Linked DNA regions of Homo sapiens: region 2 is linked to region 1. The links come from fine-mapping of genetic effects on gene expression. Tissue or cell type: subcutaneous fat. Region 1 holds a variant in brackets; the other region holds the start of a gene. All regions are shown on one strand. Distances are between the middles of the regions.

Region 1 (8,208 bases):
ATCAAAACTATAATGAGATATCTCACCCCAGTTAAAATGGCTTATATCCAAAGACAGACAATAACAAATGCTGACGAGGGTGTGGAGAAAAGGGAACCCTCGTATACTGCTGGTGGGAATGTAAATTAGTTCAACTTCTATGGAGAACAACTTGGAGGTTCCTCAAGAAACTAAAAATAGAGATACCATAAGGTTCATAATCTCACAACTCAGAAGGGCCCTCCACACTCTTGGAACTGTACACCCATTAGAAACCTTAAAGTAAAGCTAATCAGAGAAGTTTCTTCCCAGAAGCATTGCATCCGTGATGTGGACAGCTTTCTTCCAAAATCACAGATTGAGAGTTCTCTGCTATCATGAGACTCGTATCTTTCAATGTGTGCTTATGCCTCTGTGAACAATGGAAATGAAAAGGGGGTCTGTTGTGTGTATTCATGGGGTATACTCCTATTTATGAAAGATTTTGCAGCCAGCCTTATACACGGACAAGCTCATGTTGCGATAGATGCAAGATGAAGGAACAATGTAGGTAAGAAATTTTAACGGCATATTTGTTGCCTAATAATCAGTCAGAAATGAAACTTTGGTCCGCTCCTCTTAAACTACATCATGGGTTAAAGAGAACATTGTCAGGCCAGGTGTGGTGTCTCACACCTGTAATCCCAGCACTTTGGGAGGCTGAAGTGAGCAGATTGCTTGAGCTCAGGAGTTTTAGACTAGCCTGGGCAACATGGTGAAATCCAGTCTCTAACCAAAAATTAGCCGGGCACGGTGGCATGCATCTGTAGTCCCAGCTACTCAGGAGGCTGAGCTGGGAGGATTGCTTGAGCCTGGGAGACAGAGGTGGCAATGAGCCGAGATTGTGCCACTGCACTCCAGCCTGTGTGACCGAGCAAGACCCTGTCAAGAAAAAAAAAAAGAGAGAGAGAGAGAGAAAATTGCCAGGACGTCTTCATTCTTTTGGATGAGCGTCATTTTTAGGTCTTCTTTTTCATGATTTAGAGTAAATTAGGTAATGATTAAAAATTAATCTCTCATGATAGCATCTCTAGCAGATTCTATAGTAAAGGCTGTGGTTACACAACAGACTTTAAATTCTGTTGTGAAAGTTATGCTAAATATTAAAATTGCTCTAGATTACTTACTGGCTAAATGGAGAAGTAGCCGTGCAGTTGCTGGCATGTCTTGTTGCCCATGGAGAAATAAATTGTATACTATGGGGATTCAGTCATAGAGGATTAATGAACAGACTGCTTGGTTAAAGTAAATAGACTGTTTACCCAGCTCATTCTTTGATCTGTTTAATTTTAGTTGCTTTGGTTAATGGGTATCCCAGCTAAAGAGCATACTCCAAACCCTTGGTATTATTCTGCTGATAGTCATAGTAGTCTCCCTGGTGTGTTGTATTCTCTTAAAAGCCTTAAATGTTTGCACGCAGCCATCTCTAGAATGTCAAATTGTCTCTTTTCAACTGGAATGACGAGCTGAAAGAAATGTGTGACCATGAGGGCACTGGAACCTATGAATGATATGCTGACACTGAAAACCCAAAATGACAGTAAGAGTGGCACTAAGGCCCTAAGTTTTGGTCATACTCTCAACTAAATGAGAACTTGACCAGAAGGGAAGAATTTTTTAAACAAAATTATGGGAGGCCATTGTTTTGGATTGAGCTCATGCAATAGGCCCCAACAGATCAGACCAAACCAAAATAGACACTCATGCTAAATGTGATATAATCAAACTAAGGCTTTAAAGAAATAGATTCCAGAGGAGACCAGGTCTTGTTTTTCTCCTGTAAACAGGACATTTCAGCATAAGAAAGTACCCTCTACTCTAACCCTTACAAAAATATAACCTGAAGTTCTTGTTCCCACCTTACAAATCCCACTGTTCTGCTATTTCCTAGGGGATTTCGAGACCAAATACTCACATTTACAATGGTGATAGTGACATCAATGACTAAAGTTTTGGTCAATCTCCCAAAATTGAGAGACGATGACCAAAAGGGGAAAATTTTTAAATCAGGTTTAGTCTAAAACTACCTCCTCACATATTTTAAGTTCAGCCTAAAGGTTTCTCTGTACATAGTGAACTATAACTTAAACGGAGATGTAAATAGGCTATAACCTACTTTTGTGCCAATCACCCAGTTTTGGCCAATAAAAGGGGGCCAACTGTTTAAACTATGTTCAGATAAGGCAAATGCTGAGCTGTAACCAATCTGGCTATTTCTGTACCTCACTTCTCTTTTCTGTAAGTCACTTTCCATAAGTCACTTTCCATTTTCTGTCCATAAATCTTTTTCTACCATGTGGCTATGCTGGGATCTCTCTGAGCCTATTCTGGTTCAAGAGGCTTCCTGATTCATGAATTGTTCTTTGTCTAATTAAACTCTGTTAATTTAATTTGGCTAAGGATTTTCTGTTAACAGGGTGATTGGTAGGGAAAGAAAGTTGCTGGAGTAGTAACTTGAGGTGACAATACATTGTAAAGAAGGGTTTTTCAGAATAGGGATGATGCGCATAGGCTTTTAGTCAGAAAGAAAGGGACAGGAGGAGAGAAAGACATTCAAAAGGAGAAAAGAAAGTTGATGAAGAAAGGAAGTGGATGGAATTAGGAGTCAAGGCAGGAGGGGGATGTGGGGATAAGGATTATTCAGACCAGGAAAAGAGAAGCTTCTGCCTCTGCCAGAAGGAAGGAGGATGCAGGGAATGAAAATGAAGTCAGAGGAATTCTGAGGCAGAGGAGGATGGTCACAGAAAGTGGAGGAAAGATGGTTGTTTTCTTACTACATAACCTTGAGGACGGGGGCTGGCCTAGTGTCCTATTTTTGGACCACCCAAAACCATTGCTATACCTCAATAATAATTCATGGAAGGAAAGCAGGTGAACGGGGTCAGCCTCAGCAAATGCAGCATAATCCATTGCCTGTGGTCATAGTTTCTGGGGCACTGGAAAGAGACTTTACCCAAAATAATTTCTTCAAGCCTTTAAAAAATGTTCATGTTAAATGGCTTTATTGAATCTTAAGTCATATTTTTAGATAATCTCTCTCTCTCACCTGTGGCTCCTTTAGCATGGAAGTCCATACGAAAATGAAGTTTTCCTGCAAATAATATTAATTTAGCATTCATGCTATGTGTGTGGGCAAATAGTCATTTGCAAACTTGTTTTACAGGTAAACAAAAAAGAATGAAAGGGGTGCAAGGTAAAAAGAACTCTGAAGAGTTGTTTTATGGAAAATAAAAGTACAATTTATTCAGTTTTTCCTTTTGTAAGGTCAGGTCTACTACATAATTAGAGCTTCTGTGTATTCAGGATATCACAAGAATACAGAATTGCAAAGCATCTCTACTGTTGCCATGGGTGTGACAAAAAGGTACCAAAATTTTAGAACAATCTGCAGGCCAGATGCTGCTGCTTAATGTTTGATTTGCAAAAGAAAACCACAAAGAGCTTTCATTAACAAATGATTGGCATCCTTTGAAAACTTTGCTTAAAAGGAGAAACATCATAAGAATTTGTGAAGGCGATACAGCCATTCTTCCCTTCACACTTTTTTCTTTGTGTTCTTAAAAGCAGCAACAATCTTTTAACCAGAGCTTTTTAAAGAACATAACGTTCTTATGTCTACCCATCAACCCATATTTAAATATGTGTGGGTAAGAGCATAATTACTGGAAACTGTGTGTTGGCAGTATATAGGAGAACCTGCTAGAGGTGAAGGAAAAGTACAGAAAAGAGAAATCTTGTACACCAAAGAGAAATGTCTCTTGTTTCAAAATTTTCTTAGGATTACCGTAAAACAAAATTCCCTTCAATTGATGTAAATTTAGTATTAAGTCAAATGAATGACCCAATTGCTATTTGAAAAGTCATTTTTAAAATTATTGTAACTTTTAAACCATGGTTTTCATTTTTACTAACATGAAAGTTCAATTTTCCATTACTCACTTGGAGTTAAGCTTGAAAACATACTTCTTTTTCCCTTTATTTTTCTTATAACTGATTGTGCAATAAAGCTGAGACATAAAGTACTCTGTAGAGTAGACGGGGTTTGAGAAATTTCTTTAATCCAGTGCAAATGTAGGGAGTTGATTGAAATATCAGAATCTCACACTGTTTGTCAAACACACACTCACCCCATGTCTTCTTGGAAGTCACAGTGCTCCCACCTATTTTCATTTTACAACACAACTGGTTTGATGCAATTTCACAGTTGAGATTTTTTACATAAGTTGAAGTTGAGAAATCTTAACTCATTCTCACCTACTTGGCTTCAGTTTAAAATATTGCTATAATTTAGGCAAATAGTTGCAGAAAAAAATATGCCATGGAAAGGCTAAACAATAGTAGCTATGGCAACCTGCCTTTGACTCTCTCAGCCTTGTAGGGAATGGTGCTTCTGTCTACACTTCACAGCAGTCTCTTTGCCAGCACTCCCT[C/G]CCACCACAGATCTCTTCCTCAGGGGAGTTTCGGTGAACAGTACGGGCAGTTCATTCAAGTGGAAAATTCCTGTCCTCCGTATGTGCCAGCAGGTCGGTGGGGTTCCAATGCCCGTGACAGCTTGTTGTCTTGAAATTTTGCTGAGACAGAAAATTATGCCTTGAGCATCTCAGAATTGATATTTTTCTTTTGCTGCTCTGGTTGAAAGATAGAACATGTGTGGACTAGGATAGCAGGGTTTTTACAATGTTCGGGTAATCTCAATCACTGTGCAAGAAAACAGCTCAATAGTATCTGTCTCCCCTCAGCTTCAAGCAGCTAAATAAAGATCACTCATCTCTGGAGTCTGGAATCAAGGCCTTTCTTGCCTTGTAGTAGAGTGACTTCACTGTGGTGTGGTAAGGAGACCATCTCTTTGCAATAGCACCATGACCATGAGTGGCTGCTTGAAGGGAGAGTGGCAGCATTTGAGGTCTCTCTTCTCTGAAGGATTCTAGCCAGAGTGTGCAAGCTCAAAGGTCTACAGGGAATAAACAAGTGATGAAATTGAGTGAGGCAGGGAGAGGGAGACTTTGGGAACTGGAGAACCCTTGCCCAATATAAAGGCCCTGGCTTGGTTTAAAGTGGAGAGCCTCCCTCAGCTCCATCTAGTTGTTGTCATACAGAAATGTGGCTCTGTCTTGCCAGGTCTTCGGATTTGTCAAGAGAAGTCAGATAGTTACATGAAATTTATTTATTACAAATTACTGGTAGCAAATTCATTAACATTTTGTGAACACTTCGTCAAGTTTTCAAAAACATTTCACCTCCTTCAGTTCTTTGCCCAAATGTTGACTTCTCAGTGAGGATTTCCCCTGAACACTGTTTTGGTTGACAACCCCGACCCCACCCTGGCACATCCTTTTTCTCCTTCTTTGCTTTCTCTTTCTCCATAGCACAACACTTAATTGTTATCCAATACTGAGAGCAGGAATTTGTAACTGATTGCTCCTCTTCTGGACATCCAGCACCAAGAACACTGTTTGGTCCACAGAAGGTACTCAAGAATATTATTGGATGAATGTGAAGCAATGCAGGTCTGATACCCAGGCATAGGACTAATGTGAGATGAGTGAGGCACCAAGGGTGCAAAATTGAAGGGGCACTTAGCTTGTATGACCATGAGAGTGAGTGCCTCCTTAAATTTTGTGTCCTGGATACCTTACTCCCTCACTCTAGTCTTTGCCATGCTGGTGTAGTTGCCATAAGAATGTCTGATATGATCCTGAGGGTGGAATGAGAGACAGAAAAAAGGACTAGGATGTTTAACAATTAACATGCTACTGTTATTTAAAAACGCATGACTACAGTGAATCTGTATTGTGTCCATCAACAACATGAATGATATGGACTAAAAATGGTACAGGGTAATCTTCAGTTAGAATGCATACCTTCTGGGAATTAGGAATGTTAATTCACGCTCTCTTTTTCATTTTTACACAGAAAAACGTAAATCGTGATGAAAATTTTCATCAGCTGGGGGAGAATATTGATTTCAATTTTAGGCATGGGATGACCAGAGCTAAGAATGCCTATTTATTGAAAACCACCAAAATGTACAACAAATTGAAAAAAGAATTACTACCTGTAGAAGAGGTAGTATACCTCATTTTCAAGTTGAAGTTAAAATTAAATTTTGAATGAAAACTAATTATGAGAAAAGTTTTCAGTACTGTAACAAAGGCCAGCTAATGTTTTCCATTTATAGTTTTACTGGCTGAAAAGGAATATTGTCTGCACTCATAGCCACCAAACAAACGGCGATCCATAATATACAGGATGAACATGGTGGCAAATGTTAAATGGGAAATCTTGACTGAGGCTCTGAGATAGGATAACTATTAAAAGGAGTTAGTGAGGCAGATCAAAATGCAAACTGTTCAACTGTTAGAGAACTGGTTTCTCAAACAGAGTTGCAGTAGGAGGAACCTATCAAGGGAACTGCCAAAGAACCCACAGTAGTCCCTGTGGGGGAACCAGTTTTAAACATCTTCCATGCCTGATCGTGCAAAACTTTTTAGAATGACACCAGTGAAGAAAGAACTTTCTGTACTCCTTTCCTTTCTGCCCTCCAACCCTAGGGGCCTGAGGTTTGTGCTTAGCAGGTTTGAGAGGAGACACTGAGAGAAAGGGGCGGGGAGAGAGAGAGAGAAAGAGAGAAAGCCACCACTCTCCCCTAAATCCTGGCCTTGCTAGGAGATGAAAAAAAAAAAATTAACAATCAAAGAAAGAGTTTTGTATGTTACATTGGAGTGGGCATTCTCATTACTGGATGGAGACTGTTTTGTGACATAAAGTGCCCTAGGACTATTTCAGAAGAGTGAGCAGAAAAGTCATGCAACATGGAGGATTTCATTCAGAGGAAGTAAATTTTAAAGGGAGAGTGGGAGACAAAGCTCGGGTTTCCTTTCAGTGATATCTCATGAGAGTGATTGTTAAATGTGCTGATTACCCAGGGCTGTGGCAGACTACAGCCAGTCTCTGCGATTATTGTTAAATTTTTCCAGATTTGCTCTTGTGAAAACTACCTATTTGCTTAATAAGACTGAAAAGGAAAGAAAAGATGATCAGGTATAGTCATAGGTGATTTGTATGGCTCTGTAGTAACTGGAAGGTAAAGGAGGAAAGGAGCTGAGAGCAAATGTACTGGAGGGAAGAATGGTGCCAAGAAGTCCAGGGGAGCTGGGAGGTGGTGTCCATCCCCTCCTTAAAGATCTACACCTTACTAATACAAAAGATGGGATTCTGCCTTGCAAAATAGAGAGCTCATACCTTTCACTCCAGATATTTCAAAATGAGACGCTGAAGCACAGTTAACGAACTATAAAAATTAAGATAACTAGTAATACATCCCTGAATGAGGCAAGGAAGTGGAAGGAACATACTCTTGGAAGACAGAAGTCAGATCTGCCACTTATCTTTCTGTGCATCTCAGTTTCCTCATTTGTAAAAAAAATAGATATTAACACAGTTTTAGGATTGTTGGGAGGACTTAATAAGATTATATATGTAAATAAAGTGTCTTATACAACTTGAAGTACAACTGTCATTCAATACATGAGAGATATTAAAGTAAATGCTAGAAGACTCACCATCTATATTGGAAAAAAGTCATGTGTATCATTATATTATTCCTCCCCAATATCATCATTATTATGCAATGACAGGCTTACAAATATTTTTGCAGAAAACTTATATTCGAAAAGTAATATAATGGTGTAATTTGCTTGACTAACAATAATACAAGAAAGTACATGACAGAAGACAGGGAAGACCCCATATATAGCCTCCAAGAATAGTACCTCTTTTCCATTTTATTTTACACCCTAAAAATATATTTGGAGGGTTTTGATACCTTGAGAATATTAGGAAAACTATTATAAAGTGAGTTACATTTTTTGTAGTCTGTCTTTAAAAAGAAAAAGGCTACTTTATTTTAGGGTGGTAGAGTCTTAGGCTTATGCAGCTGAAGTAACAACTCCCAATGCAAATTATTTTGTAACTTTCTTTTATCTAATGCCATCTTGGTAAATATTTATAGGACCTGGCAAATCATCCTATTGGGCTGATTTCCCAGAGTCCCTGAGGGTAATAGGAGCCTTTTTTTTTTTTTTTTAAGAATGTCTGTAGTTTTCAGGAGTTTCAACAAGATATAGCTTAAGTTGTGGCAATATGAAATAGATATTATCAATTCATGTGTTGATATGGTTAGCAGCATCA
Region 2 (6,344 bases), 82 kb before region 1:
GCCTTAAGGAAGATAGTGATTGTTCCATTGTTCAGGAGGAGGAGAAATGGCACATTTGACAGGAAAGTAAAAGCTGGATCTTAAAATAAGATTGGGACATGTTGAAATGGCTGGCTAGGATTTAAGCAGAAGGAAAAGCTTAAGCAAAAGAATGGATTTGGTAAGCACATTCAATTTGGCTGAAAGATATATTCATAAAGAAAAATAATAAAAGGCGAAATATCAAGAAAGGTAGTTTACAGCCAAAATATGAAAAAAAAATTAATGCCAGCCTGATAAGACCTATTGTATAGGAAAGTTAGAGTTATTGGAAGAATGTGACCAGGAAACAACATCATCAGTTCTGTGCTTTAGGCTAAGAAATCAAGCAATTGTGAATAAAGGATACATATGGGAGAAAGCTGGAACCAAGGAATCCATTTCAGAGGCCAGTGCCATAATCCAGCCAAAATCAAATAGAGGTTTGAATAGTGGAATAGCAATAAGAATACAAAGTAGAGAAAATGATAAGGAGATACAAAACTTGGCAATTGGTTGAATGGGGTCTGGATAATGATGCAAGGAAGGAGTAGGCAGCAGTGGATGAGGTTTTTGAGCCTGGGTGCCTCATTGCAGAAATAGAACCTTTAGGAGTTTGGAAGAGCATTCTTGAAAGGAGTTTCACACATACTGCATCGGAGGTGCCAAAAGGTGTTGGAGATTGCAGTCTGCATGTAAAACTAAGGGAATGTGGGTGGCATCCACATACAGACAATCAATGAAATCCTGAGTGTGAGGGAAGGGAGGAAGTTGAGAGAAGAAACAATAAAAATGTGTCAATATCAGTATATTAAGAAAGTTCCTTGAGGTCTTTGAAGGTCAAGAGGTGGAGTCAGATGGGCATAAAGATGGCAACAATAGACACTGGGGATAACTAGAGGGAGGATGGAGGAGAAAAAGGGTTGAAACTGTTGGATACTATGCTCAGTACCTAGGTGACAATAACATTTGTACCAGAAACCTCAGCATCACACAATATACCCAGGTAACCTGCACATGTAACCCCTGAATCTAAAAAGTTGAAAAGAGGGTAGGTACAGTAGCTCATGCCTATAATCTCAACACTTCAGGAGGCTGAGGCAGGAAGATCACTTAAGCCTAGTAGTTCAAGCCCAGCCTGTGCAACATAACAAGACCACATCTCTACAAAAAAATAAAAAATCAGCCAAGTGTGGTGGTGCACGCCTGTAGTCCCTGCCACTCAGTAGGCGTAGGCAGTAGGCTTGCCTGAGCTCAGGTGTTGAAAGCTGCAGTGAGCCAATGGCTCCACTGCACTCCAGCCTCAGTGACACAGCAAGACCTTTGTCCAAAAAAACAAACAAAAGACCAGTCACAGACTGGGAGGAAATATATACAAATCACACATCTGACTTGTTTCTAGAATATATAATAAACTCTTAAAACTCAACAATAAGAACAGATAATTAAGTTTTTAAAAGGACAAAATACTTGGATATTTCACCAAAAATTATTTACAAATAACTAATCACATAAAAATATGCTCAACATCATTAGTCATTATGAGAGACAGGACAAGCTGGATTTCCTAGGCCGACTAAGAATTCCTAAGCCCTAGCTGGGAAAGGTGACTGCAACTACTTTTAAACACGGGGCTTGTAACTCAGCTCACACCCAACCAATCAGGCAGTAAAGAGGGCTCACTAAAATACAAATTAGGCTAAAGCAGGAGGTAAAGAAATAGTCAAATAATATATCGCCTGAGAGCATGGGGGAGGGACAATGATCCGGATATAAACCCAGGCATTAAAGCAGGGAGTGGCAACCCTCTTTGCGTGCCGTCGCATTGTATGGGAGCTGTGTTTTCACTCTATTAAATCTAGCAACTGCACACTCTTCTGGTCTGTGTTTGTTATGGCTCGAGCTGAGCTTTCGCTCGCTTTTCACCACTGCTGTTTGCCACTGTCACAGACCCGCCACCGACTTCCACCCCTCCAGATCCGGCAGGGTGTCCGCTGCTTTGCTGATCCAGCGAGGCACCCATTGCCACTCCCGATCCGGCTAAAGGCTTGCCATTGTTCCTGCATGGCTAAGTGCCCGGGTTCGTCCTATTTGAGCTGAACACTAGTAGCTGGGTTCCACGGTTCTCTTCTGTGACCCACGGCTTCTAATAGAGCTATAACACTCACCGCATGGTCCAAGGTTCCATTCCTTGGAATCCATGAGGCCAAGAACCCCAGTTCAGAGAACAAAAGGCTTGCTGCCATCCTGGGAGCGGTGGCCACCATCTTGGGAGCTCTAAGAACAAAGACCTGCCCATAAGAATTAGAGATATAGAAAATGAAGAACACAATGCAATATCAGCACACCTCTATTTGGCCAAAATTGGTAAAACTGACAATACCTGGCGAGGATGCGGGGCAACTAGAACTCATACATCACTGTTGAGAATGTGAAATGGCACAGACCCTTTGCAAATTAGTATGTCAATTTCTTGCAAATTTAAACATGCACTGACTAAATGGCCCAGCAATCTCACTCCTAGGTATTTACTCAGGTGAAATGAAAATTTCTATTCACCCGAAAAAACATTTGTTGAATAAATTAATGAATGAATAATAAACGAATGGAGCTATCATAATGTAAAATGACTAGATAATATCTAAAATTGCTGAAACAAAAAAAAATATAAGCCTATTTTTGGAAAAAGGAAGTAACTACCACAAGGAATAGTTAGAAGAGTTAAGAGACTGACTCTTTAAGCACAGGACAGATGGTCAGGAATGGTTAAAAGGGCCTGCTGCTTTTCATTGACCTTCCAGTACTATTGATTTTTTTTAACTACGTGAATATATTACTTTCATAAAAATGTAAAAAGAAAAAGAGGAGTCAGAGAAAGAAAATGAATTGTCAGAAAAATTTAGAAGTTTTATCAACTGAAATGCAGAAAAGATAAATTGTGCTTGCATTTCATTTTTGTTGTTCATTCCAAACATTTATGGATTAGACTAGCTGAAATGAAGTAATTAAGAGACTCAATAGAAAACATTGCCAAGAATAAAAAATAATTTGAGGAAACCATGAAAAGTTTACAGGTTACTCTGTCACAAAATACTTTGTTAATTCACTACCCCGCAGCAACACACATCACCAAGGCTGGCTTCTGGAATGCTTTCTACTTGTAGCCATTTTTGAACAATAGGTGATTCCGCTTTTAACAACACTGTTAGAATATAATGTAGCGAGTTTTACCAGAGATGTTTAAGACTACCTGGCACAAGTAAATTTCATTGTATACATGTATATACACGAGGGAGGGTGATCATAGTCTAGAAAAAAACAGGTCTTCAGAAGTCTAGAACTTTAATAACCTTAAATCCAAATTATTCCCTGCGTCCATCCATAATGAGAAGGAAGAAATCTACACTTGCATTTCTTCCACCTTTCACATCTTTCTCATTTAAATCCTACTGTACTTGATTTGTGTTGTTCCCAACGTACTAGGTGCTATGCATGACGTAGAAACGTGTTTCCTTATATGTATGTACTAGCAGGCTCCTTCAAGCACATGCCTAAGGTTGAAAGATTCAAATATAATTATAGCCTCTTAAATTATTGCGTCAGAGCCCGCCCTATCCCCTCAGAAAAAGCCCCCTTTTACACCATCAAATGAAATATCAGGTTATTTGCACTGGATATTTTTTAAAAGAAAATATTTGATTTTAAAATCAAAGAGTTCTTGGTTTTCCATCATTTCACTAATTGTCTTACTAGAGACCCGAGTCTCCTTTGTCAAAATATATTTCAGTACGCATTTTAAAAAATATGTGTGTGTGTATACTTAAATATATATATATATAAAGTCTTGGACTTATTTTCACCTAGCCTGGGGCATATCGTGGATAGTTTCAATCGACAAAACAGGCACTCTCTGGCCTAGGAGTGGAATCCATCCTCAATTTTCGCAGGCTCCTCACAATTCTCTATTTGGAAGAAGTGTCCCTCTCCTTCCCTTTTCTTTTCCTCCTTTACTCAGCGTCAGTCCCCGCAGCCATCTCCTCCGACCCTTTTTGTCTACGTCCCAGCGTCGCGAACCACAGCGGCGGAGGTGGAGCGGGGAGAGGCGTTAGGCCGGGCGGCTAAAACGCGCCGTTAAAGTGGGGGAGAGATTGCGCGGAGCCCACGCGATCCCTGGGACGCCGGAGACAACGGGGCTCTTGGGAAGGCGCGGAGCCCGGGGAAGCCGGGGATGTGCGCGTGAGCCGTGCCCGCAGGGTCTCCCCGCCTCCGCCACCTTTCTTGGGTGGCTCTCCGCCTCGTCCTCCCTCCGAGGGCCGTTGGTACATTCCTAGTGACTCCAAGCGCTTAAAAGGGGCCCGGGAGGATGAACCCCACAGATCTGAACCTGATTTGTGTGTGCACCGCGTCTCCAGCGATCCCGGATCCACTGCGCTGCCAGGGGCCTGGGGGTGGGTCTCTTGCTGTCTCTGCGACGACATCCTTACGTTTCGGCACTCTAATGCTGGGTTTGTGCGTGTGTGTCTGCTTAGCGGTCTAGCGGGCTGTTAGGCTCCCTCGCCCCCAGCTCCTTGGCTCGCTCAGCTCCTCCACCGCAGCCCAGCAGTGAGACGCGCGCGCAGCCAGCTCCCCACGAGATGGAACAGACCGAAGTGCTGAAGCCACGGACCCTGGCTGATCTGATCCGCATCCTGCACCAGCTCTTTGCCGGCGATGAGGTCAATGTAGAGGAGGTGCAGGCCATCATGGAAGCCTACGAGAGCGACCCCACCGAGTGGGCAATGTACGCCAAGTTCGACCAGTACAGGTGAGCGCGCTGCAGCTTCAATGCCAGGCGGCGCCCACTCGCCCCGTCTGAGGAGGAATGGACGTGGGGGACGCAGCCCAAAGTGACTGGCTCGGGAAGCTCGGGCCGCGCTGCGTCCGCCGCTCGCCCCCTCGCTGGCCAGCCGCGGGGCTGGCACGACTCGCTTGGGGCTCCGCGGCCACAGCGCAGGCGGAAGGTGGATCCTACTGGCCTTGCTGACCTCCGGCCGGGAACGGCGGACAGGCGCCGGGAAGGGAGGCCACCGCGCGTCTGCGAGATTTTCTGTTCTCTTCTCTCCCGCAAACCCCTCTGCTTCTAAACCACCAGTCCTCCTGCCCCTGGCCTCGGGAGCAATGCCCACACTCCCAAGCCATCGTTAACCCCGGGCGCGGAGATGCGGAGAGACCGCACTCAGGTTCGGGCCCTCCTGACACCTTAAGGAACCGTCTGGCCGGACTAGCAGAGGGTGCTCCCAGGGGAGCACTACATCAGCCATCGGGAGAAGTGTGTGATGTTGAAGAAGACAAGTCACCCGCGTCAGTTCTCCATCACTGCGCCTTCGGTCGCCTGCAACCGGGCACCTTATAGCAAGCATTTTTACTCATGTAAAATAGCGTCTTGTGGCCGTCAGCTGCCACTACGGAATTTCTGCTGTTCCCTTTCCCAAACCAATTTAACTAACTTCCCCGACTGTGGGTTTATTCAAATCCACTGCCAAGTTTCGCAGATTAAATATTCGACCGTCGTTTTTTTCAGCCCCCAAATGATCTGATTTATCTTATCCTTGCTTCTGACGATCTGTAATGTAAATTAAAGACCCCTACTTCCCAGATGTACTTGAGTGAGGTGCCCTGGTAAGCTGGCTTTTTTGCAGCCCCGGCTTGGTGATTAAGTCGAATCTCTCTACCAATCCTCCGGGGCCAGAGGTAAAATTTAATCACCCCGAAGTGTGAGAGGTTCTACTTTTTCTGAGCAGTTAGTGCGTCAGTCTTTGTGGTTTTTTGGGTTTAGGGTTAGGAGAAAGGGGTAAGTGAAAGAAAAGAATAAGGAAAGAAGTAAGTTTGTTTTTCTTGGGAGCAGGTTCTTTTAGTCACTCTTCAACATGTGGGATGTTTCGTAAAGTTTTGTTGGCATGGGCGGTTTCAACTGTATTTTAGGATTTGAAATAGAAAAAGTGAAGACCACTAAGGATCCCATTTTTCATATACAAGTGACTTGAGGAAATTCCTTTGGCTCCTATCAGCTTAGTTCATGGTAGAGCCCTTCTGTAGCCGTGAAAGCTAGCAGAGAGTCTAGCTTTTAAATTTTCTTGCATTTGCTCCAGGTAATTGAAGACTTGTTATGGGACAGGTACTCTTCCAGACACTTGACACATATGAGGAATGGCAGGCAATGAAGAAGTTGAATGACTTGCACTAGGTCTTCTATCGATAGCGGCTCCAGGCTCCCGGGGTTAGCATTGTTGTTCCAGAGCCTACACTCTAAACCACTGTTAAACCAGGACAGGTTGTAACAGTTTTTA

Alleles and levels. Positions count from the first base shown, and alleles are read on the strand shown. Sizes are in standard deviations (SD) of each study's normalised expression.
For the expression in subcutaneous fat of the gene that starts at base 4,391 in region 2, G is the low allele of the variant in region 1 and C is the other (moderate effect, 0.40 SD a copy in GTEx).

What was found. PIP is the estimated chance that this variant, and not a neighbour inherited with it, causes the effect.
Region 2: CDO1 starts here. The variant in region 1 is fine-mapped to the expression of CDO1 in subcutaneous fat (GTEx, PIP above 0.99). The same link has a PIP of 0.9 or more in esophagus muscle, gastroesophageal junction and visceral fat.

Annotation. Positions count from the first base shown.
Region 1 is chr5:115,732,052-115,740,259 of GRCh38, reverse strand. It overlaps LOC124901048 (a long non-coding RNA gene), which reads right to left and starts at 1,216. Exons shown (of 2, transcript XR_007058907.1): 1 at 1,146-1,216. The variant C/G (reference allele first, on the strand shown) is at 4,449.
Region 2 is chr5:115,814,706-115,821,049 of GRCh38, reverse strand. CDO1 (cysteine dioxygenase type 1) reads left to right here and starts at 4,391. Exons shown (of 5, transcript NM_001801.3): 1 at 4,391-4,822. The coding sequence starts at 4,653. It overlaps LOC124901049 (a long non-coding RNA gene), which reads right to left and starts at 3,962. Exons shown (of 2, transcript XR_007058908.1): 1 at 3,879-3,962.